3 linked regions of the Homo sapiens genome follow. The protein of the gene in region 2 interacts with the protein of the main gene of each other region in a biochemical or structural test. Each region holds a gene or a part of one and is shown on either strand. Other genes may lie near its edges.

Region 1 (7,025 bases), on a different chromosome or scaffold from region 2:
TACTTTTACGATAAAATCCAAACCCCATAGTAATGACACAGAACGAAGGCCATACCTTATATTTGAAGTGCTCTTTTTTCTTTTTTCACTACTTTTCTTCTTAGCTACACCTCTAGATCTCGTCCGCTCAAGGGTTACCTGTTTAAAGTGGAGTTTTCACCTCCACAGGCTGAATTAGATATTATTTCTCTGTACTCGAATAGCATTCACCACTGTTAACAGCACTTACCAGTGCTGAAACATAATTGATTTCTTGCCTTCTTGACTAAACTGACCTCTATGCAACTCAAAGAACACATCTCAATCATCTCTGTACTCTCTACCTATCAGAGTTTAGTGCACCGTAGACACTCAGTAAATAAACAACTAAATATTGAATTTGTGATGTTACTGAAAACTCCTTTAATGAAAAGCATTTAACACCATAGGGAAGACTGAACACCAGGAAAATTTACTTGCATGACTAATTATCGTGTTCTCTTTTTAAACAATAATTGCTTGTTTTTCTTCCCAAGTATTTATGCGCTGCCAGTTGAGCCGATTACAGAAAGGGCATGCCACAGATGAATGGTTTCTGCTCAGCTCCCATATACCATTAAAAGGTATTGAACCAGGGTCCCTGCGTGTTCGAGCACGATACTCTATGGAAAAAATCATGCCAGAAGAAGAGTACAGTGAATTTAAAGAGGTATTAAATTATTTATCAGTCTTGTTTTTGTTGGAATTAACAGAAACATTTAACATTTAATAAAAGATCCATTAAGGTAAACATAGTAATTCATAGCTTAGTAGCACAATGATGCCAGAGATTTTAAACCTTGTTTTATACTGTAATTTTGGTAGAAATAAGTAGACTACGAATTCATTCTATTTTAAATAAATTTATTCAATGGGACATCATTTTAAATATAAGAACTTGTGAAAGAACATATTTCTTGTTAGTCTCATGGAGCATGCTTATAATGCTACGTACTTTAAACAATCTTTTAAAATGTCATTTTAGCTTATACTGCAAAAGGAACTTCATGTAGTCTATGCTTTATCACATGTATGTGGACAAGACCGAACACTACTGGCCAGCATCCTACTGAGGATTTTTCTTCACGAAAAGCTTGAATCGTTGTTGTTATGCACACTAAATGACAGAGAAATAAGCATGGAAGGTATGGTATGGCCATGTTAGTGTGATACAAGAAACTGGGTTTAGATTTTATATCAAGGATATATGGACTCTATCTCTGAATATACTAAATTGTTAAATTATATTGCAAAATAAGTTATTCTGTTTTCCCTCCTTAAAAATTGCAGTTGGATGTCAGTTCTGATTATGTTGGTTACTATGGGAAGCTGATATTTCTAATGTAGGTTTTGGCAGATAAGTACTAGAAGCCACAAGAAGGTGGTATCTGTGTCTACATCAATGGCTTGACTGTTTGGCATATTTATCTGTATTCTCTTGTTTTTTATTTTCTTTTGAGATGGCATCTCAGTCGCCCAGGCTGCAGTGCAGTGGCGCAGTCTCGGCTCACTGCAACCTCTACCTCTCAGGTTCAAGCGATTCTCCTGCCTCAGCCTCCTAAGTAGCTGGGACTACAGGCATATGCCACCACACCCAGCTAATTTTTTATTTTATTTTTTTAGTAGAGACGGGTTTTCACCATGTTGGCCAGGCTGGTCTTGAACTCCTGACTTCAGGTGATCCGCCTGCCTCAAGCCTCCCAAAGTGCCGGGGTTACAGGTCTTGTTTAATTTTTACTTCTTCATTACACAGAAGCTGGGTGTCAGCTGCATTTTATTTCTAACTTTTATAGATAGGTAGTTCCCAAGCTGCTGGACACAGTGCTTTTAATGGCTTACAAAATAATCCACCCTCCCCCTGGCCCACACACACCACCAAGCACTTTGATTCATTAACAGTTCTTGCTTCTAGGTTCCCCAAATAAATAGTAAAGTTTAGAACTATTTTCCTCCTCATCACAAAATATAGATTTGTCAAGGAATAGATAAAATGGTGGTCCTTATTTTACACTTGAGTTTATCTTTTCTGACAGCATTTGTATTTCATTAAAATTTTACTGAAACTCAGTAGACATATTTTAAGCTAATAAATTAATCTATACTGGGATTTTGTGTTATATCCTTAATTGTAAATAAACCCTAAAATTTCAAAGCATGGGGTCAATGGGCAGCAAAGCTGATTTATGGTCCTAATTTTATCATTAGCTGTCTAATTGATCTTAAGTCATATAACAATTCTGAGTCTTCATTTTTCCATATGAACATGGCAGTGTTAATCCCTTCTGTTCATGATCTAATGAGGTAATACATATGAAAGTCTTACAGAGTTAAGTCTGTAGAAGTATAGGATGTCATTGTAATTAGTACTTTCAACGCTGCACGCAAAAAGCACATTTAAGTGGCTATTCCTGTTGAGGTAAAATGAATTCACTTAATTTCCAATTTGGTCACATTAGGTCAGTCCTTTACAAATAATCTTCTAATGTAAATATTTGTGTAGATGAAGCCACTACCCTATTTCGAGCCACAACACTTGCAAGCACCTTGATGGAGCAGTATATGAAAGCCACTGCTACACAGTTTGTTCATCATGCTTTGAAAGACTCTATTTTAAAGATAATGGAAAGCAAGCAGTCTTGTGAGGTAAGAATTTAATGTTTTAATAAGTATTTTTGCAAAGAACATATTTTAATAGGTAATAATTTGTAGCCAATTACATTTTAAGGAAAATATATTAAATTTCTAAAATTATTCCTCATAGCAGTTACACCTGTCTGTAATACATTTATAAAAATGTTCTGCAAAATGGACTTCTTAAAAAAGATGTACTTTATTTTGGGATTAAAAACCATCAAGTTGCACCAGAAATTCATGAAAATACTTTGTCATTTCCTCTACTGTACTAATAATCTATATACTACTTACAGAAAGCGTGCATAAGATAAATTGAAGGTTTTGTTAGTGACTCATTATATAACCTATGTAGCACTTCATTACATCTTGGTTTGTTCTTGAAGGTTTTTTTGCGAGGGGAGAATTATGAGATAACCTCAACTAAAACAAAAAAATCTTTTTAGGATTATTAAAGTTTCAGTATAAATTCATAATACACTATTAAGACAGTAAGTGGAATCTCACACACATATTCTCTCATTTTAATGGTAAAGCAACTACAAAGAAATAATATATATTAGATCTGATATAAAAATCAGTTTAAGGAATTGTTTTTGACAATGGACACTGGGACCTAGCAAATGTTAATCCTGCACGAAGGTGTCGATTCATACTAATAACTTGAAGGGAAGAAATTAGTGATTTAATGTTGGAAATGTGGGGTAATGCCATAGTTGGCCTAACATAAGGATGACACAGAAGTGCAGCAGGTAGGTAGGGAGTCTCTGGACTTTAGAGATAGGCTACGGAATTCCGACTTCCATAGATAAATGTACTCTGCTGACACTAGATCAGAAGGGTTACAGGAAAAGTTCTGAGAAAGGTTTGTGATTCTGCCTAAGGCATTTGATATTTTTATTAGCCATTAAATAAGCCTCATTCAGAAAAGCTTTTAATCAGCTTTTTTTCCCCTCAAATAAATAGAATTGACTAAGCACTGTTTGCTTTTCAGTTGGCTAATTGGGAATAAATGGTAACAGACCTACCAGGAGGAGTTCCATAGAGAAAACTACTTAAAAACTCCCATTATACAAAGAAAAAAGATCAATACACACAGAGATACCGAAAAATAGACAACCTCGAAAACTATAACTACTTGTTTTCCTCTATTCATTTGCATTTGTCATTGCCAACATGCATTTATATTGATTTATTCCTTCTTTTAGTTAAGTCCATCAAAGTTAGAAAAAAATGAAGATGTGAACACTAATTTAACACACCTATTGAACATACTTTCAGAGCTTGTGGAGAAAATATTCATGGCTTCAGAAATACTTCCACCGTAAGTGGTGAAATTTTCATTTGACAAGAAATTGTGTATCTATGTCTTCAGAAATTTCTATTTCTAAAACGTGAAAGCTTTTCTGTTGTCCTAATATTATTATACTCTGAAAAAGTCATGGTTAATCTTTATGAGATGAATTGTATTTAAAGAAAATAGCTGTCTTAATAAAACCACCCATTATTTTCGTACAAGCCAATATGTCTGGTTTGTACTGTAGTAGCTTGGGGAGTGAATAGAGGTTTATAGTTTCAGATTTGAGATTGTAAAAGATATCTTGTCTATCCATTTAGTCTATACTTGATAGACTAATCACTCTGTTAATATGCTTGTCGGCCTCCAGTATTAGTGAACTCACTTGTTCAGGTAGAAGTTAACTTAAGTCTAAATCTTGCTCCCCAGAATTTGCAGCTGGTTGGTTCTCTATATCTGAAAGTAAATGTCAGGAAGTTGACTGAATAAATTGATGATAAACTTAGTGGATAAAGTTTTCCTTACCCCTTGCTAAATGCCTCATTACCTGTGGCAAAATACTTTTTTGGGTAAAAGGCCAGTTTTATTGAACTGTGGTATATTTGGGTAAATTAAGCTTTTGGCTGCTAGGAGATCAGTGTTTTCACTTGCTTTCTGTGTTGAGATGATTGTGTTATTTTGGCAGGACATTGAGATATATTTATGGGTGTTTACAGAAATCTGTTCAGCATAAGTGGCCTACAAATACCACCATGAGAACAAGAGTTGTTAGGTAAGGCTCATCAATTGATTTGTTAAATCACATACTAATAGGTGGATAATTGTGAAAAATTGAGGAATAACAATATACAATTCAATGCTTTTTTCTTTGGCTTTTATGTCAAAGCCCTGTTGCATATTTTCTAAGTCCAGATGGCTCCTAAACTGAAAGTTACTGTGAGATTTAGCTGCCGTTTGCATTTTCTAAAAACATGAACATTCATTTATAGTCAAGTATTGGGGATTTTTAAACCCTTACAAGATGAGGCTAAAAGTTATATAACAAAATCTGTAGCTAACTTCATATAGTATTCTTCATACATACACACACATTGATTGGCAGTGAGAGAGAAGGGCAGTAATTGACCGATTTAGATATTAATTGGTTTGTTACAATCTGTGACTCTGAGCTAATCAGAACCAGAACATGTAGTTCTGAAGCTGTGTTTCAGTCTGCTCATTGTACCATAATTAGGAAGAACTGCTTTGGCAAATCATGGAATTTGGGAGCTTATATAAAGGGACTTCATTATCATTATTCTATAGGAAGAACTGCTTTGGCAAATCATGGAATTTGGGAGCTTACGTAAGGTTACTTCATTATCATTATTCTAACTTATTTTTCCAATGAAGAAGCAGATCTGTCTGGAGAGGTTAAGTTGAACTAAGGTTTTATAGAAAGCTGGTGGCTAAGGCAGAACTAAAGGTAACTTTCTAAGACCCAATCTGATATCCTTGAGTCTTATTGTAGGCTTTTGCTTTTGTTAAGCATACTCCAACTAATACCCCAACTAATTCCAGGCAAATGGAAGTTTAATGCGAAAGCGTCATGGAATACAGCAGTTTTCTAATAATATAATTTGTTATTTAGAATATACACTGTCATGTCATGCTATATGTAAAATAATTAGGCAACCATTAACACCATTATTACACAGTTTGTTTTGAAAATGTGTTAATCCTGCCTCCAACCTAAATTTTGTCAAGGGGCTTCTATTTCTTTTTTTGGGGGGCAGGTAATATTTCTCTTGGTTATGATATGACATAATATTTAAGAACTACAGATTCTGTTTTTCTTGGCATTAGTGGTGATTGGGAGGAATAGAAAAGAATTACAAGCATAATATTCCAGCACAGTTACGTGTGAGATGTAAATTAAAACTGTTCTATAAATTTGTAAGTTTCAAACAAGTATAACTGTTAAGCAAACACAGCAGGAAATTGTAAACTGTTTCGTGCAAGAGGGTGTTTTAGGGCATTTTTGCCAAGGTTAGGTTTCAGGCTCATAGACCTACTATGTATAATTATCACAATATTTTCAAGTAAAGTTTACAAGATTCTTTAAATTTGGGAAGTCCAAAATTAAAGACTTAATTGTTATTTTTTTGAGACAGGGTCTTGCTCTGTTGCCCATGCTGGAGTGCAGTGGTGTGATTTCGGCTTACTGCAACCCCCGCCTCCCAGGTTCAAGTGAGATTCTTGTGCTTCATCCACCCAAGTAGCTGGATTACAGGCATGCACCACCATACCTGGCTATTTTTGTATTTTTAGTAGAGATGGGGTTAGACCATGTTGGCCAGGCTGGTCTTGAACTCCTGGCCTCAGGTGGTACACCCACCTCGGCCTCCCAAAGTGTTGGATTACAGGCATGAGCCACCATGCCCAGCCAATATATTAGAATTTCTATAAATGCTGTTTGAGAAGTAACATCTTTACTTTCTAAGAGTCCAAAAATTAGCAAACAGGTACATGTTCAAAGGTAAATGCTAAGAAATTGGGTAATCCACTCTAACAGAGAACAGAGATTGTATCTATTAATCTATAGAAGGAATTGCGTAACTCATTATTTTGGGAATAATGCTTGTCTTTACATGGATTATGTCTATCAATCTGTAGAAGGAATTGCATAATTCATTATTTTAGGAATAATGCTTGTCTTTACATGGGGCAAGTAAGAGGTTAATTATTAGTGTGGATTCTTCTTAAAAGGAAATTAGAAATTATCTACATGACAACATATCCTCCCTACCAGTGACTAAAGGAGGCAGAATAGGAGTATCTATGCAAGCTTTTAACACTGACATTGTCCCAAAGTAAAATTAGCAGATAAAATCATATATGACAGCTGTTAGTATAATTTTTGCTTTTGCTATTGTTTTATAATTTGACAACTTTTTAAAACTTTAGAATTCCTAATGTCTTGTCTTAAAAGTTTTTCAGGCTGGGCATGGTGGCTCAAGCCTGTAATCTCAACATGTTTAGACCAAGACAGGAGGATTGCTTGAGGCCAGGAATTTGAAATTGTCCTGGGCACCGTAGC
Region 2 (7,025 bases):
AGGGTGGAGGGGAGTGCTGCTGAGGACGGGGTGTCTAGGGACAGGGTGGGGCAGCCCCCCTCCTGGATAGAATCGCCTCATTGTGGGCTGGACTGTGGCCCCAGGCACTGCCCCCACCCTCTGCCCCCATCCCACCCTCAGTAGACACAATAGGGGCTGTGTACTAGTCCCAAAGAGATATTTATTCCAGGACCTAGAGAGAGGCAGGATGAGGGTAGAGAAGTGAGTGCCCTAGTTGGAGGGGGAGAGGAGGGTAATCAAAGTTGCGGCCTTTTCCTAACTTCTCTTTTCTAGGGAGAGAAACAAATTCCCTGTCTTCCTTCTCAGTTAACCCCTTAGTACCCAAAAGAAGCACAGAGGGGTCCCAGGTTGAAAAAGGAAATCTTTTCACCTTCCCATTCATGGAATGGTAAGGGGATTCTGAGAAGAGAGAAAGCTCTCAGGCCACTACAGCTTCTGCCTATCGCTTGTGGGAGGGTTGGAGGCAAATGCCATCTGATCCTGTCTAATGTAACTGGAAGAGGGCAACCAAGGGGGTGATCTTTGGGGATGGCAGATGGGCTGAGAATTTGTGTCCAGCCCTCAGCCACTCTTCCCTCTGCTTTGAACAGTGTGTCCTGGGACTCTGAATGGCCTGAGTGTGACCGGCGATGCTGAGAACCAATACCAGACACTGTACAAGCTCTACGAGAGGTGTGAGGTGGTGATGGGGAACCTTGAGATTGTGCTCACGGGACACAATGCCGACCTCTCCTTCCTGCAGGTTAGTGAGCCCACCCTCCTTCCTCAACCTGCTCCTCTTTATTCTCCCCTAGAACCCTCCTTCCTTCTTCAGGGCTACCTTCTGCTGGAGTTCACCCTTCCTAAGACTCAGGAGTTCCTAAGATTCAAAACCGTGTATTTATGGGGACAGTGGCTGTCATCTGGGACCTATGGTCTCACTGTTGTAGCCAGGGATATATAGGGGGCAGGGTCAGGGGCAGGTGGTGTTCTGTGGATAGTGCAAGGTCAGCAGGGACTAGTGCAGAGAGAAACCTGAGGACCAAGAGGTTACCTGGGGAGATGAGGAAGGGGCCCTACTGGTATGAGGCACTTTGAGGAGAAAGCTGCCTGTCTTCACTCCCAGAAGTGACACAGCAGTGTGACACAGTCTACTCCCTACTCCCAAATAGGAATTAGCAAGAGTTAAGGCCAGGTGCAGTGGCTCATGCCTGTAATCCCAGCACTTTGGGAGGCCAAGGAAGGCAGATCACTTGAGGTCAGGAGTTCAAGACCAGCCTGGGCAATGTGGTGAAACGCTGTCTCTACAAAAATACAAAAATTAGCTGGGTATGGTGGCATGCACCTGTAGTCCCAGCTACTTGGAGGGCTGAGGTGGGAGGATTGCTTGAGCCCAGGAGTTTGACGCTGCAGTGAGCGAGATTGTGCCACTCGTAACAGAGCGAGACCCTGTCTCACCAAAAAAAAAAAAAAAGGCCAAGCTCGGATCACCTGAGGTCAGGAGTTCGAGACCAGCCTGACCAACATGGAAAAACCACATCTCTACTAAAAATACAAAATTAGCCAGGTGTAGTGGCACATGCCTGTAATCCCAGCTACTTGGGAGGCTGCGGCAGGAGAATTGCTTGAACCCGGGAGGTGGAGGTTGTGGTGAGCCAAGATCGCACTATTGTACTCCAGCCTGGGCAACAAGAGCGTAACTCCGTCTCAAATTTTAAAAAAAAGAAAAAAAGAAAGGAAAGAAAGAAGGAAGAATTAAAACAGTTAAAGAGTCTTTAATGCCTGAAGGAGGAGAGGAGATTGAGATTATTTTGCCCTGTTGTCTCTCTCATTTACATAATCTGCTCTGTCACAGTGGATTCGAGAAGTGACAGGCTATGTCCTCGTGGCCATGAATGAATTCTCTACTCTACCATTGCCCAACCTCCGCGTGGTGCGAGGGACCCAGGTCTACGATGGGAAGTTTGCCATCTTCGTCATGTTGAACTATAACACCAACTCCAGCCACGCTCTGCGCCAGCTCCGCTTGACTCAGCTCACCGGTCAGTTCCCGATGGTTCCTTCTGGCCTCACCCCTCAGCCAGCCCAAGACTGGTACCTCCTTGATGATGACCCAAGACTGCTCACTCTAAGTGCCTCTTCCAAGGTGCCTGTCACCTTGGCCGCTGTCTAAAGGTCCATTGCTCCCTAAGCAATAGAGGGCCCCCAGTAGGGGGAGCTAGGGGCATCTGCTCCAGGGAAAGGAACCCTGTGTCCTTGTGGGGCTGGAGTCAGAGCTGGATCTGTTAACCGTTTTTCTAATTTCAAAGTACAGTGTACCGGAGGCCAGGCCTGATGGCTTACACCTGTAATCCCAGCATTTTGGGAGGCCAAGGAGGGCAGATCACTTGAGATCAGGAGTTTGAGACCAGCCTGGCCAACATGGCGAAACCCTGTCTCTACTAAAAATACAAAAAAATAAAATAAAATAAAAAATTAGCTGGCTATAGTGGTGCGCACCTGTAATCCCAGCTGTTCATGAGGCTGAGGCAGGAGACTCGCTTGAACCTGGGAGGTGGAGGTTGCAGTGAGCTGAGATTGCACCACTGCACTCTAGCGTAAGTGACAGTGAGACTCCGTCTCAAAAAAAAAAAAAAAAAAAAAAAAAAGCCTGGGCGCGGTGGCTCACGCCTGTAATCCCAGCACTTTGGGAGGCCAAGGCAGGTGGATCACAAGGTCAGGAGATCGAGACCATCCTGGCTAACACGGTGAAACCCCGTCTCTACTAAAAATACAAAAAATTAGCCAGGTGTGGTGGCGGGCGCCTGTAGTCCGAGCTACTCGGGAGGCTGAGGCAGGAGAATGGCGTGAACCCGGGAGGCGGAGCTTGCAGTGAGCCAAGATTGCACCACTGCACTCCAGCCTGGGCGACAGAGCGAGACTCCAAAAAAAAAAAAAAAAAAAAAAACCAAAGTACAGTATACCTGGATGTCCCTCCTTCCCTAGGAATTCTACCTTTACTCTCCTAAACCAAACCCCTATGAGCTGGAGGAATATAGGGGTTAAAAACCACCTGTCCATCTTCTGCTTCTCCATGTCCCAGTCAGTTGGAAAACATATGGGCAGGGCTTGGGGGAGGGAATGTTGAGTCAGAAATCTCTCCCTCTCTCCCTTCCCCTCCCCCACTAGCTAAACCGGATCTGGACAGGTGACTGAGGAGGCAGGAGTTTCTTTTGGCCTGACTCCTCATCTTATAAAGGGAGTCTTCTCTGCAGCTTAGATTTAATTGGACCTATCTGTCTGCCTCATTCTCCCACTCCTGAGTCTCAGGTGTCCTTTTGGATGGGTGGAGAGGTAAGGAAGAGGCGTTCCGCTGCGGCCCTTAACCCTGTCACTTCTTTCCCTACCTCAGAGATTCTGTCAGGGGGTGTTTATATTGAGAAGAACGATAAGCTTTGTCACATGGACACAATTGACTGGAGGGACATCGTGAGGGACCGAGATGCTGAGATAGTGGTGAAGGACAATGGCAGAAGCTGTAAGTGGCCGTGATCAAGATTGCTCCCCAGTCCCACCAAACCAGAGTGACTCCCTTCTTTCCATCATCCTTACATTCCTGATCTGAACCCGCCTCCCCAGTGAACAAACACCTCAGGTCCCTGACTCAGCAGCCCACCAGGGCAGACCATTCCAGTCTCCTGGAATCTAAACCACAGAGGAGGTGTTTCAAGAAAAGGAGCAGGCCGAGCATGGTGGCTCATGCCTATAATCCTGGCACTTTGGGAAGCCAAGGTGGGAGGATCGCTTGAGCCCAGGAGTCCAAGACCAGCCTGAGTAACATAGCAAAAAATCTACAAAAAATTAAAAAAATCAGACAGGCGTAGTGGCTCGCACCTGTAATCCCGGCTACTCAGGAGGCTGAGGCAGAGGATTGCTTGAGCCCAGGAGGCTGCAGCTGCAGTGAGCTGTGATTGTGCCATTGTACTCTAGCCTGGGCAACAGAGTGAGACCCTGTCTCAAAAAAAAAAAAAAAAAATCCCTGAGTACTAAGCAGGGAAGCCAGATCTTTAGACTCCACATCTGTTACTCGTTCCACTAGAATATACTCCCATTTCCTTGGAGCCCACCTTCCCCTGACCATTCACATGCATATATTCCTGCATATATTCAGTTTGCCCAGGAGGAACTAAGTTCCTGGGTTGGGACTAGGACTAAGGTTGGCATTTGCCCCAGTCCCTCCCCTTCAGCTGCCCAGTGGGTGGTGTGGAGGCGTGGCCGCGCCCCTTGTTGACAGGTCCACTTGAGCCCAGCCCTGCTCTCCAAGGGCAGGGAGGGACACAGCCCTGGCTTTTTGCTTCCCGGGATTGAGGTGCCTGTGTACTGACATCATACCCCGTTGATTAAAACAAGCCTTTCTTAGCCCTGATGGCCCCTTGTGTTGCCTTCCTTCCCAACCAGGTCCCCCCTGTCATGAGGTTTGCAAGGGGCGATGCTGGGGTCCTGGATCAGAAGACTGCCAGACATGTGGGTTTGAAATTCCCTCCAAAAACTTCACTCATACGCTTTCATATCCCTTCCTCCCCAAGCCTGGGTCAACACTGTGGGGGAGGCATGAGCAGTGGCCTCAGAATTCAGTCCTAGGAGCCCTAACAGCCATGCTTTCTCTCCTTCCATAGTGACCAAGACCATCTGTGCTCCTCAGTGTAATGGTCACTGCTTTGGGCCCAACCCCAACCAGTGCTGCCATGATGAGTGTGCCGGGGGCTGCTCAGGCCCTCAGGACACAGACTGCTTTGTATGTACCCTTTCCATTGCCTGGGTTCTGAAATTGGGATGTGGCCTTTGAGGAGGAGGTAGGGGTACACACGTAACATAAATCTGATGAGCCTCCTTTTTTCCCAGGCCTGCCGGCACTTCAATGACAGTGGAGCCTGTGTACCTCGCTGTCCACAGCCTCTTGTCTACAACAAGCTAACTTTCCAGCTGGAACCCAATCCCCACACCAAGTATCAGTATGGAGGAGTTTGTGTAGCCAGCTGTCCCCGTAAGTGTCTGAGGGGAAGGAACAATGATCAACAATAGTAGATCCAAGATTTTAGACAAAATTGTGGAAGGGAAAAAGAATCCAGTTGGTGATAAATAGGGAGATTGGTGAATGGTTATGATCATCTAACCACTCCAGTGAGTGACCCTTACGTCCAGTCCTCCCATGACTTCAGCTATCACCCTTACTTCTGCTCCTTGTAGCAACAAATAGTGAAGAGACTTTTGAATCTATAGGGCAGCACTTAAGGGATCTAGGGTGGCAGATGGGGACAAATCCAGTGCAGAGCTGGAGGGAGCCTAGGCCCAGAGCAAGGGTTCCATTGGTAGCTGGTGATGTTCCTCCCTCATCTCTAATGGTGTCCTCCTCCTCTTCCCTAGATAACTTTGTGGTGGATCAAACATCCTGTGTCAGGGCCTGTCCTCCTGACAAGATGGAAGTAGATAAAAATGGGCTCAAGATGTGTGAGCCTTGTGGGGGACTATGTCCCAAAGGTGGGTAGGAGATGGTAAGAAGTTGTAAAGAGACAGCCTTTCCTCTGAGCCTGCGCAGACCACCCCCACTGAACCTCTCTTACATTTGCAGCCTGTGAGGGAACAGGCTCTGGGAGCCGCTTCCAGACTGTGGACTCGAGCAACATTGATGGATTTGTGAACTGCACCAAGATCCTGGGCAACCTGGACTTTCTGATCACCGGCCTCAATGGGTTAGAGATCCTGCCTTCCCTCCTTAGACCCCAGCCCACGCACCCCTCACAGTTCATTTCATTGGCCAAAACTTTCCTATGTGGAGCTGACTAGGAATCAAAGTCATAAAATTCTAGCCTGTTACAAAGGACCTGAAAGAATGCTTAACACATCCTCCATCCAGGCCTTCGGTCCCCTCAGGAACATCTTTGAGCAATTCAATATCGCCCTGCCAAGGAACAAGGGACAGGAACAACATATCCTCCTTCTTAAAGTTTTCTTTTTTATTCTTTTTTCTTTTTTGAGATAGGGTCTTGCTCTGTCACCTAGGCTGGAGTGCAGTGGCGTGATCTCGACTCACTGTAGCCTCGACCTCCTGGGCTCAAGTGATCCCAAGTAGCTGGGACTATAGGCACACACCATCATACTTGACTAATTTTTTTGTATTTTTTTGTAGAGACAGGGTCTTGCTATGTTGCCCAGGCTGATCTCGAACTCCTGTGCTCAAGCAATCCTCCCATCTTGGCCTCCCAAAGTGCTAGGGATCACAGCACCCAACCTCCTTCTTAAAGTTTTGTAAAAGTTCTTCCTTAGATTTGGATAAAAATCTGTCTCCAGGCTGGGCCCGGTGGCTCATGCCTATAATCCCAGCACTTTGGGAGGCCGAGGTGGGCGGATTACGAGGTCAGATCGAGACCATCCTGGCTAACATGGTGAAATGCCATCTCTACTAAAAACACAAAAATTAGCTGGGTGTGGTGGTGCACATGCCTGTAATCCCAGCTACTCAGGAGGCTGAGGCACGAGAATCACTTGAACCCAGGAGGCGGAAATTGCAGTGAACCGAGATTACACCACCGCACTCCAGCCTGGCGACAGAGCGAGACTCTTTCTCAAAAAAAAAAAAGAAAAGAAAAGAAAATTCTGTCTCCCCATGACTTTTAGCTGTTTTCACTCATTCTGCTCCTTGGAGCAAAAAGAACAAAGGGACTTTCTAGTCTATAGGACAGCATTTAAAATGTGTGTGTGTGTGTAAAAAAAACCCACTATGACCACCTGTTTTTTTTTTTCCTTTAATTTTTTATTTTGACATAATTTTAGATCTACACTAAAGTTGCAAGAATGGTATAAAATTCCCCATATACTTTTTTTTTTTTTTTAAGACAAAGTCTCACTCTGTTCCCCAGGCTAGAGTGCAGTGGTGCAATCTTGGCTCACTGCAACCTCCGCCTCCTCTGCCTCCCGGGTTCAAGCAATTCTCCTGCCTCAGTCTCCTGAGTAGCTGGAATTATAGGTGTGTGCCATCATGCCCGGCT
Region 3 (6,901 bases), on a different chromosome or scaffold from region 2:
CAGGGCTGGGGACGCAGGGAGGCGTCGGAGTTGGGGTGGCCACACAGCTCACGCTCTCCCTCCCAGTGCGGGACACGCAGGCTGTGCGGCACTACAAGATCTGGCGGCGTGCCGGGGGCCGGCTGCACCTGAACGAGGCGGTGTCCTTCCTCAGCCTGCCCGAGCTTGTGAACTACCACAGGGCCCAGAGCCTGTCCCACGGCCTGCGGCTGGCCGCGCCCTGCCGGAAGGTAGCCGCTCCGCCCTGACTTGGTCACGCGGGGTCAGGCTGGGGGGTCACAGGCTGGCATTTCCTACTGGGAGAGGTTGGCCGGGCAGCATGGGAGGGGTCCTGACTCACTGACCTGGGGCCCACTGGAGGGAAGCCCATGGTTCTGCAGAGCACAGGTGTTTGCCTGAGTTGGGGGTGGGGCCAGGAGACCATCCCCGGGCCTGGCCACTCTCGGAGAGGCCAGCGGCACTCTGCAGGGTCCTGGCTCCGGTCTGTCTGGGTGTTTCATGCTGGGCTGGGGGCAGCCCCCAGGAGAGTCCACCCTTGTGTCAGACACTCAGAAACCCCCAACCCAGGCTGATCGTGGCCCTAAATCTGAGGCTAAATCCAGGCTCCCTGTGCTGGCTTCAGACTGGCACTTCCTGAAGGATGAGCCCCTGCCCTGTGTCCCCGACTCTTCCTCCAGCACGAGCCTGAGCCCCTGCCCCATTGGGATGACTGGGAGAGGCCGAGGGAGGAGTTCACGCTCTGCAGGAAGCTGGGGTCCGGCTACTTTGGGGAGGTCTTCGAGGGGCTCTGGAAAGACCGGGTCCAGGTGGCCATTAAGGTGATTTCTCGAGGTGAGTGGGCCCCGATCAGGGCTCTGTGTGGCCCCGTGCCTGCCCTGGGCCACCCTCCCACCCCGCCAACAGGGACCTCTGGCCTCGAGCCCCAAGCAGCACCCACAGCGTCCATGCGAGAGTGGTTCCCTTTCAATTGCACCTATGTTTTTACCTAAATACATTTATTATAAAAGAAAATTTTAGGCCGGGCACGGTGGCTCACATCTGTAATCCCCACACTTTGGGAAGCCAAGGTGGGCGGATCACGAGGTCAGGAGTTTGAGACCAGCCTGGCCAACATGGGGAAACCACGTCTCTACTAAAAATACAAAAATTAGCCGAGTGTGGAGGCATGTGCCTGTAGTCCCAGCTACTCGGGAGGCTGAGGCAGGAGAATCGCTTCAACCCAGGAGGCGGAGATTGCAGTGAGCTGAGATCGCGCCATTGCACTCCAGCCTGGGCGACAGAGCAAGACCCCGTCTTGGGAAAAAAAAAAAAGAAAGAAAGAAAGAAAATTTAAAATCCTTGACGTAATGGAAAGCCATTAAAATAGATCACTGGAAATGGGTAAAACTTCCCTGGAACCCGTCTGGGCCCCAGCAGAGGTCTGGCCTCTATGTCAGAGGTCTGGGCCGGGCACAGGAAGAAATCGGGTGGCCACCACAGCCCCGTGGGTACGCCAGGCTGGGGCCCTGTGGGGCCGGCTGCATCTGCCATTTCGTGGCCTCGGGAGCCAGGTGCCCTGTCGGGGGCAGGAGGTCTGTGTGTCCTGCACAGCTGCTGGGTGTGATGGCTGCTGTGTGTGGGGGCAGGGCCTTGGCCTCTTCCTTGGGGCCTGGGGGGTCAGGGGCTGCATCCACCGAGGCCACCCGTCCCCGCAGACAACCTCCTGCACCAGCAGATGCTGCAGTCGGAGATCCAGGCCATGAAGAAGCTGCGGCACAAACACATCCTGGCGCTGTACGCCGTGGTGTCCGTGGGGGACCCCGTGTACATCATCACGGAGCTCATGGCCAAGGGCAGCCTGCTGGAGCTGCTCCGCGGTGAGTGGCATGGGCCGGGGCTCTTGCTGGAGGCAGCGGGGGCACGTGAGGAAATAAAGTGCACACCCCCCCCCCACGTCTACACACACACACACGTAGACACACAGACACACAGACACACACATGCACACACAGACACAGACACAGACACACAGAGACACACACGCACAGACACACATGCACACACACATGCACACAGACATACACATGCACACACAGACACACACACAAGACACATCACATGACACACACAGACATACACATAGACACAGACACACACACAGAGACACACAAAACAGATCACACGGACACACACAGACACACACACAGATCACACGGACACACACAGACACACACACACACAGACACACACTGATCCAGACACACACACAGACACACACAGATCACATTGGCTCAAAGACTTCATCCTCTCTAAGTTCCATTATTTCCTTTCTCACCAAAACCAAAGACAATCGCTGCCAGGGAATGGAGATGCCCGTGCGTGAAGGCGCAGTTTGGATTCCGATGTTAGAATGGGAGGGAACGTTGTGGTATAGGAAAAATGCCGTGTGTGTCTGAGGAGAGCTACACTGAGGCACCACGCACGTTTGCGCTCTGAGCGAAAGGCTCCGTACCCCTCGCCCTCACACAAAGGGCTTGATCATCTCAGACAGTCCCCACGCCCTTCAGGGTCCTCCGGGAGGGAATGTGGGGTAAAACAGGCACCACCAGGCCGCAAGCCGCTGACAGCCATTCTCCTGTTCGAGTTCCCACTGCCTACATCACGCAGTCATGAGCCTCTTCGCTGGTCCTTCTGCGTCCAGCTCCTCCCGCGTCATCACAAACTTCCAGAAGGGAAATCGCTGGGCTAGACCACTAGGAACTGCTCCTTGGTTCTTTTTTTTTTTTTTGAGACGGAGTCTCACTCTGTCGCCCAGGCTGGAGTGCAATGGCGCAGTCTCGGCTCACTGTAACCTCCACCTCCTGGGTTCAAATGATTCTCCTGCCTCAGCCACCTGAGTAGCTGAGATTACAGGCACCTGTCACCACGCCCAGCTAATTATATATATATATATATATATATATATTTTTTTTTTTTTTTTTTGAGACGGAGTCTGGCTCTGTCGCCCAGGCTGGAGTGCAGTGGCGTGATCTCGGCTCACTGCAAGCTCCGCCTCCCGGGTTCACGCCATTCTCCTGCCTCAGCCTCCCGAGTAGCTGGGACTACAGGCGCCCGCCACCACGCCCGGCTAATTTTTTGTATTTTTAGTAGAGATGGGGTTTCACCGTGTTAGCCAGGATGGTCTCGATCTCCTGACCTCGTGATCCATCCGCCTCAGCCTCTCAAAGTGCTGGGATTACAGGCGTGAGCCACCACGCCCAGCTTGCTCCTTGGTTCGTGATAAACAGTTGCCTTCCAGAAGGGCGGTAGCTGGCCTGCAGTTCCAATTTTCAATCAGGCCAGCTGCCCTTTGCCCCGGCCCCTCCTCTGAGCCCGCAGAGCTTGGAGGCAGATGAGACATGGCCCAGCCTCCCCAACCCTTCCCCACCTCAGCTGGCTCAGCTGACCCCAGGCTCTGCTCCACTCCCCTCTGCAGACTCTGATGAGAAAGTCCTGCCCGTTTCGGAGCTGCTGGACATCGCCTGGCAGGTGGCTGAGGGCATGTGTTACCTGGAGTCGCAGAATTACATCCACCGGGACCTGGCCGCCAGGAACATCCTCGTCGGGGAAAACACCCTCTGCAAAGTTGGGGACTTCGGGTTAGCCAGGCTTATCAAGGTAGGGCCCTCAGAGGGCGTGGCTGGGGTCGTGGCCGGGGCGTGGCCGGAGGGCTGGGGGCTTCCTGTGTGTGGAGCTGGGGACTCGGCTGGGAGCAGGATGCGGCCCCTGCCCTCGGGAGCCCAGGCTGGGCAGGGAGGTGGGAAGCCACCGTGAGTCCGGTGGGGCCCCCATTCTGAATGGCACGCACAGCAGGGCCCACCACGCAGCCGCTGCCTTGTTCACGTGCCTTGTTCACTGGCCCAGCCCTGGGCCCCTCTGACGGCCTGGGAGCCTCCCAGTTCCCTGTCCCCCGGGCCCTCCGGTCCCCACACACCTGCAATCCCAGGGGAAGTTGGGCTCCTGAAGGTGGTCAGGCCCCAGTGTGGCCTTAGCTGCAGCGGCCGTGCGTGGGTCAGACAGTGGGGTCATCACCGTCCCACTGCTGGGGCAATGCGGCCGCTGTGCCCGTCCATGCTTCGGGGGCAGGGCACAGGCAGCCCCCACGGCCCACTCAGCTCCAGGCTGATTGCAGGAGGACGTCTACCTCTCCCATGACCACAATATCCCCTACAAGTGGACGGCCCCTGAAGCGCTCTCCCGAGGCCATTACTCCACCAAATCCGACGTCTGGTCCTTTGGGATTCTCCTGCATGAGATGTTCAGCAGGGGTCAGGTGCCCTACCCAGGTACTGTCCCCACTGTCCCTGACTGGGCATGAGAGGCAGAGTGGGGGAGGTCCTGGGTAGCCGGCAGGGACGCTGGGGGGTGCCTCCCCCACGGGCTTCAGGGCCCTCCGCGGGCCATCGCCTGAACTCCACACCTGCACCATTCTCTGAGCACCCAGGCTGGTGCCTGGAGCTGCCTGTTGGAGCCCTGTCCAGAGGGAGGTGTTAGCAGTGGACAGTGTGCTGGGTGGCGCCAAGGCATGGCAGCTGAGGCTGCGGGGAAGGCCCCAGGAAGGGGCAGTGGATGGCTGGTGTGGCTTCTTGGGGGAGGGTAGGCAGGTGGGCCCCAGCTCTTCTCATCCCTGTCGGCCGCAGGCATGTCCAACCATGAGGCCTTCCTGAGGGTGGACGCCGGCTACCGCATGCCCTGCCCTCTGGAGTGCCCGCCCAGCGTGCACAAGCTGATGCTGACATGCTGGTGCAGGGACCCCGAGCAGAGACCCTGCTTCAAGGCCCTGCGGGAGAGGCTCTCCAGCTTCACCAGCTACGAGAACCCGACCTGAGCTGCTGTGGAGCGGGCATGGCCGGGCCCTGCTGAGGAGGGGCCTGGGCAGAGGGCCTGGACCTGGGATCAAGGCCCACGCGCTTCCCTGGGGTTTACTGAGGTGATGGGTGCAGGAAAGGTTCACAAATGTGGAGTGTCTGCGTCCAATACACGCGTGTGCTCCTCTCCTTACTCCATCGTGTGTGCCTTGGGTCTCAGCTGCTGACACGCAGCCTGCTCTGGAGCCTGCAGATGAGATCCGGGAGACTGACACGAAGCCAGCAGAGGTCAGAGGGGACTCTGACCACAGCCCGCTCTCTGGCTGTCTGTCTGCAGTGCCCGGCTGAGGGTGGGAGGCAAACACGCCTTGTTCCTGCTCTTCCCAGTTCAGCTTGGTGGGAGAAAGTCATTCGCGTGGCTCGGGACGCTCATGTAAATTTGGTTTTGGTGCTCAAGGGTTCTTTCCTCCCAGGGGCAGGTGTTTCTTTCCTGTTTGTCTTGTGTCTTGAGAGCTTGGCCTTATGACCAGTGAGAACTCTCTCCCTGGTCTCTGCCAGCCCAAGCATCACTGCCCGAGGCGCCAGCTCAGTTTCACCGTCCACGTCCACAAGGGGCTTTTCCCACCTTCACCTTTGTCGCTGGGTCAGTGCTGGAAAGCGCCCCTCACTCCTGCGCTGACAAGGGCCCTTCTCTACTGTCTGTGGGGTGGTTCCGGGCTGGGGGGGCTGCCTCCTTTGCACCTGATTTTGAAGGTGTCTCTTTCATCCATGGTTAAGTCATAAAAAGCTTATTGGTTTTGGTTTTGACTCACCTGAAAGTTTTTTTGGTTTAAAAGAAGAATAGGCGGGGCACGGTGGCTCATGCCTGTAATCCCAGCACTTTGGGAGGCTGAGGCAGGTGGATCACGAGGTCAGGAGATCGACACCATCCTGGCTAACACGGTGAAACCCCGTCTCTACTAAAAAATACAAAAAATTAGCTGGGTGTGGTGGTGGGGGTGGGCGCCTGTAGTCCCAGCTACGTGGGAGGCTGAGGCAGCAGACTGGTGTGAACCCGGGAGGTGGAGCTTGCAGTGAGCCGAGATCGCGCCACTGCACTCCAGCCTGGGCGACAGAGCGAGACTCCATCTCAAAAAAAAAAAAAAAAAAAAGAAAGAAAGAAAAATAATTTTGGGAGTTTCTGGAAAGGTACTAGGATTTCTCAAAAGGATTTGTCTTCTGCCTTGTGAAAGACAGATGTCAGACTAATCAGGCTTATCCGATGTGCTACATGAGATGGAAAGCGTGTGAAATAGTAAGTCACACTAAGTCTTCTGGAGGTTCTATTTACGGGTTTGGTTTTGATATGAATGTTGCAGAAACTCTATAAAATTCCTAGAAATCTGATACGTTATCCTATGATATATATCCTATCTCACATGCTATTCCTAGAAATCTGGTGCAATGTTATCAGTCATAATTTTGGTTATTACATTAAAATGCTGCATGCCACAGAAATAACCAAGTTTCCTTGCCAACCGTGTCACGAATATAATAAACTCTCATCAGATCCTGAGCCATGGCTATCTTAAGTCTTCGGTCATTCACAGTTATTATCTTACTTTGATTTTTTCTGAAAGCTTTGCAATCAGCTAGTCCCAAATTGTTTATTCTTCAAAGAGATTCCTGGGAAGGATTCTGACAGGTGCTCTGGAGCACAGGTTTCTGGTTCAGGTCATAGCCTTGGATTGGGTGCAAATTTCCAGAACTCGAAGGAGGGACCTGGCAGGTCCATGAAAGTTCTGTCCCAGGATCAACCAGAACAAGAATTAATGACATGGGAATGAATGAACTGACGAGGATGTTTACTGTTTAATGACTTTTGTCTGAAGCATTACGGTTCTTTAATATTTTGTTTTCCAGATGTAAGAAAACGTTTTTTGTTTCTGTTTTTGTTTTTGAAGACAGGGTCTTGCTCTGTCACCCAGGCTGGAGCGCAGTGGCGTGACCACAGCTCATTGCAGCCTTGAATTCCCAGGCTCAAGTGATCCTCCCGCCTCAGCCTCCTGAATAGTTGGGACTACAGGAATGCACCA

Evidence for each region.
Region 1: the proteins of ERBB3 (region 2) and RASA1 form a complex in vitro, tested with the Homo sapiens proteins (2 studies listed by BioGRID and IntAct, with this or other methods).
Region 3: the proteins of ERBB3 (region 2) and PTK6 form a complex in vitro, tested with the Homo sapiens proteins (2 studies listed by BioGRID and IntAct, with this or other methods).

Annotation. Positions count from the first base shown.
Region 1 is NC_000005.10:87,375,878-87,382,902, forward strand, and holds part of RASA1 (ras GTPase-activating protein 1), read left to right. Parts: intron 1-515; coding exon 516-688; intron 689-1,003; coding exon 1,004-1,163; intron 1,164-2,518; coding exon 2,519-2,661; intron 2,662-3,857; coding exon 3,858-3,973; intron 3,974-4,631; coding exon 4,632-4,718; intron 4,719-7,025. UniProt on the Homo sapiens protein: Inhibitory regulator of the Ras-cyclic AMP pathway. Stimulates the GTPase of normal but not oncogenic Ras p21; this stimulation may be further increased in the presence of NCK1.
Region 2 is NC_000012.12:56,083,140-56,090,164, forward strand, and holds part of ERBB3 (receptor tyrosine-protein kinase erbB-3 isoform 1 precursor), read left to right. Parts: intron 1-174; exon of another isoform or gene 175-409; intron 410-611; coding exon 612-763; intron 764-1,855; coding exon 1,856-2,042; coding exon of another isoform or gene 2,043-2,173; exon of another isoform or gene 2,174-2,478; intron 2,479-3,391; coding exon 3,392-3,517; intron 3,518-4,437; coding exon 4,438-4,503; intron 4,504-4,655; coding exon 4,656-4,774; intron 4,775-4,881; coding exon 4,882-5,023; intron 5,024-5,403; coding exon 5,404-5,517; intron 5,518-5,608; coding exon 5,609-5,729; intron 5,730-7,025. UniProt on the Homo sapiens protein: Tyrosine-protein kinase that plays an essential role as cell surface receptor for neuregulins.
Region 3 is NC_000020.11:63,527,481-63,534,381, reverse strand, and holds the end of PTK6 (protein-tyrosine kinase 6), read left to right. Parts: intron 1-66; coding exon 67-230; intron 231-677; coding exon 678-831; intron 832-1,694; coding exon 1,695-1,856; intron 1,857-3,454; coding exon 3,455-3,636; intron 3,637-4,150; coding exon 4,151-4,304; intron 4,305-4,658; coding exon 4,659-4,846; 3' UTR 4,847-6,381; downstream 6,382-6,901. UniProt on the Homo sapiens protein: Non-receptor tyrosine-protein kinase implicated in the regulation of a variety of signaling pathways that control the differentiation and maintenance of normal epithelia, as well as tumor growth.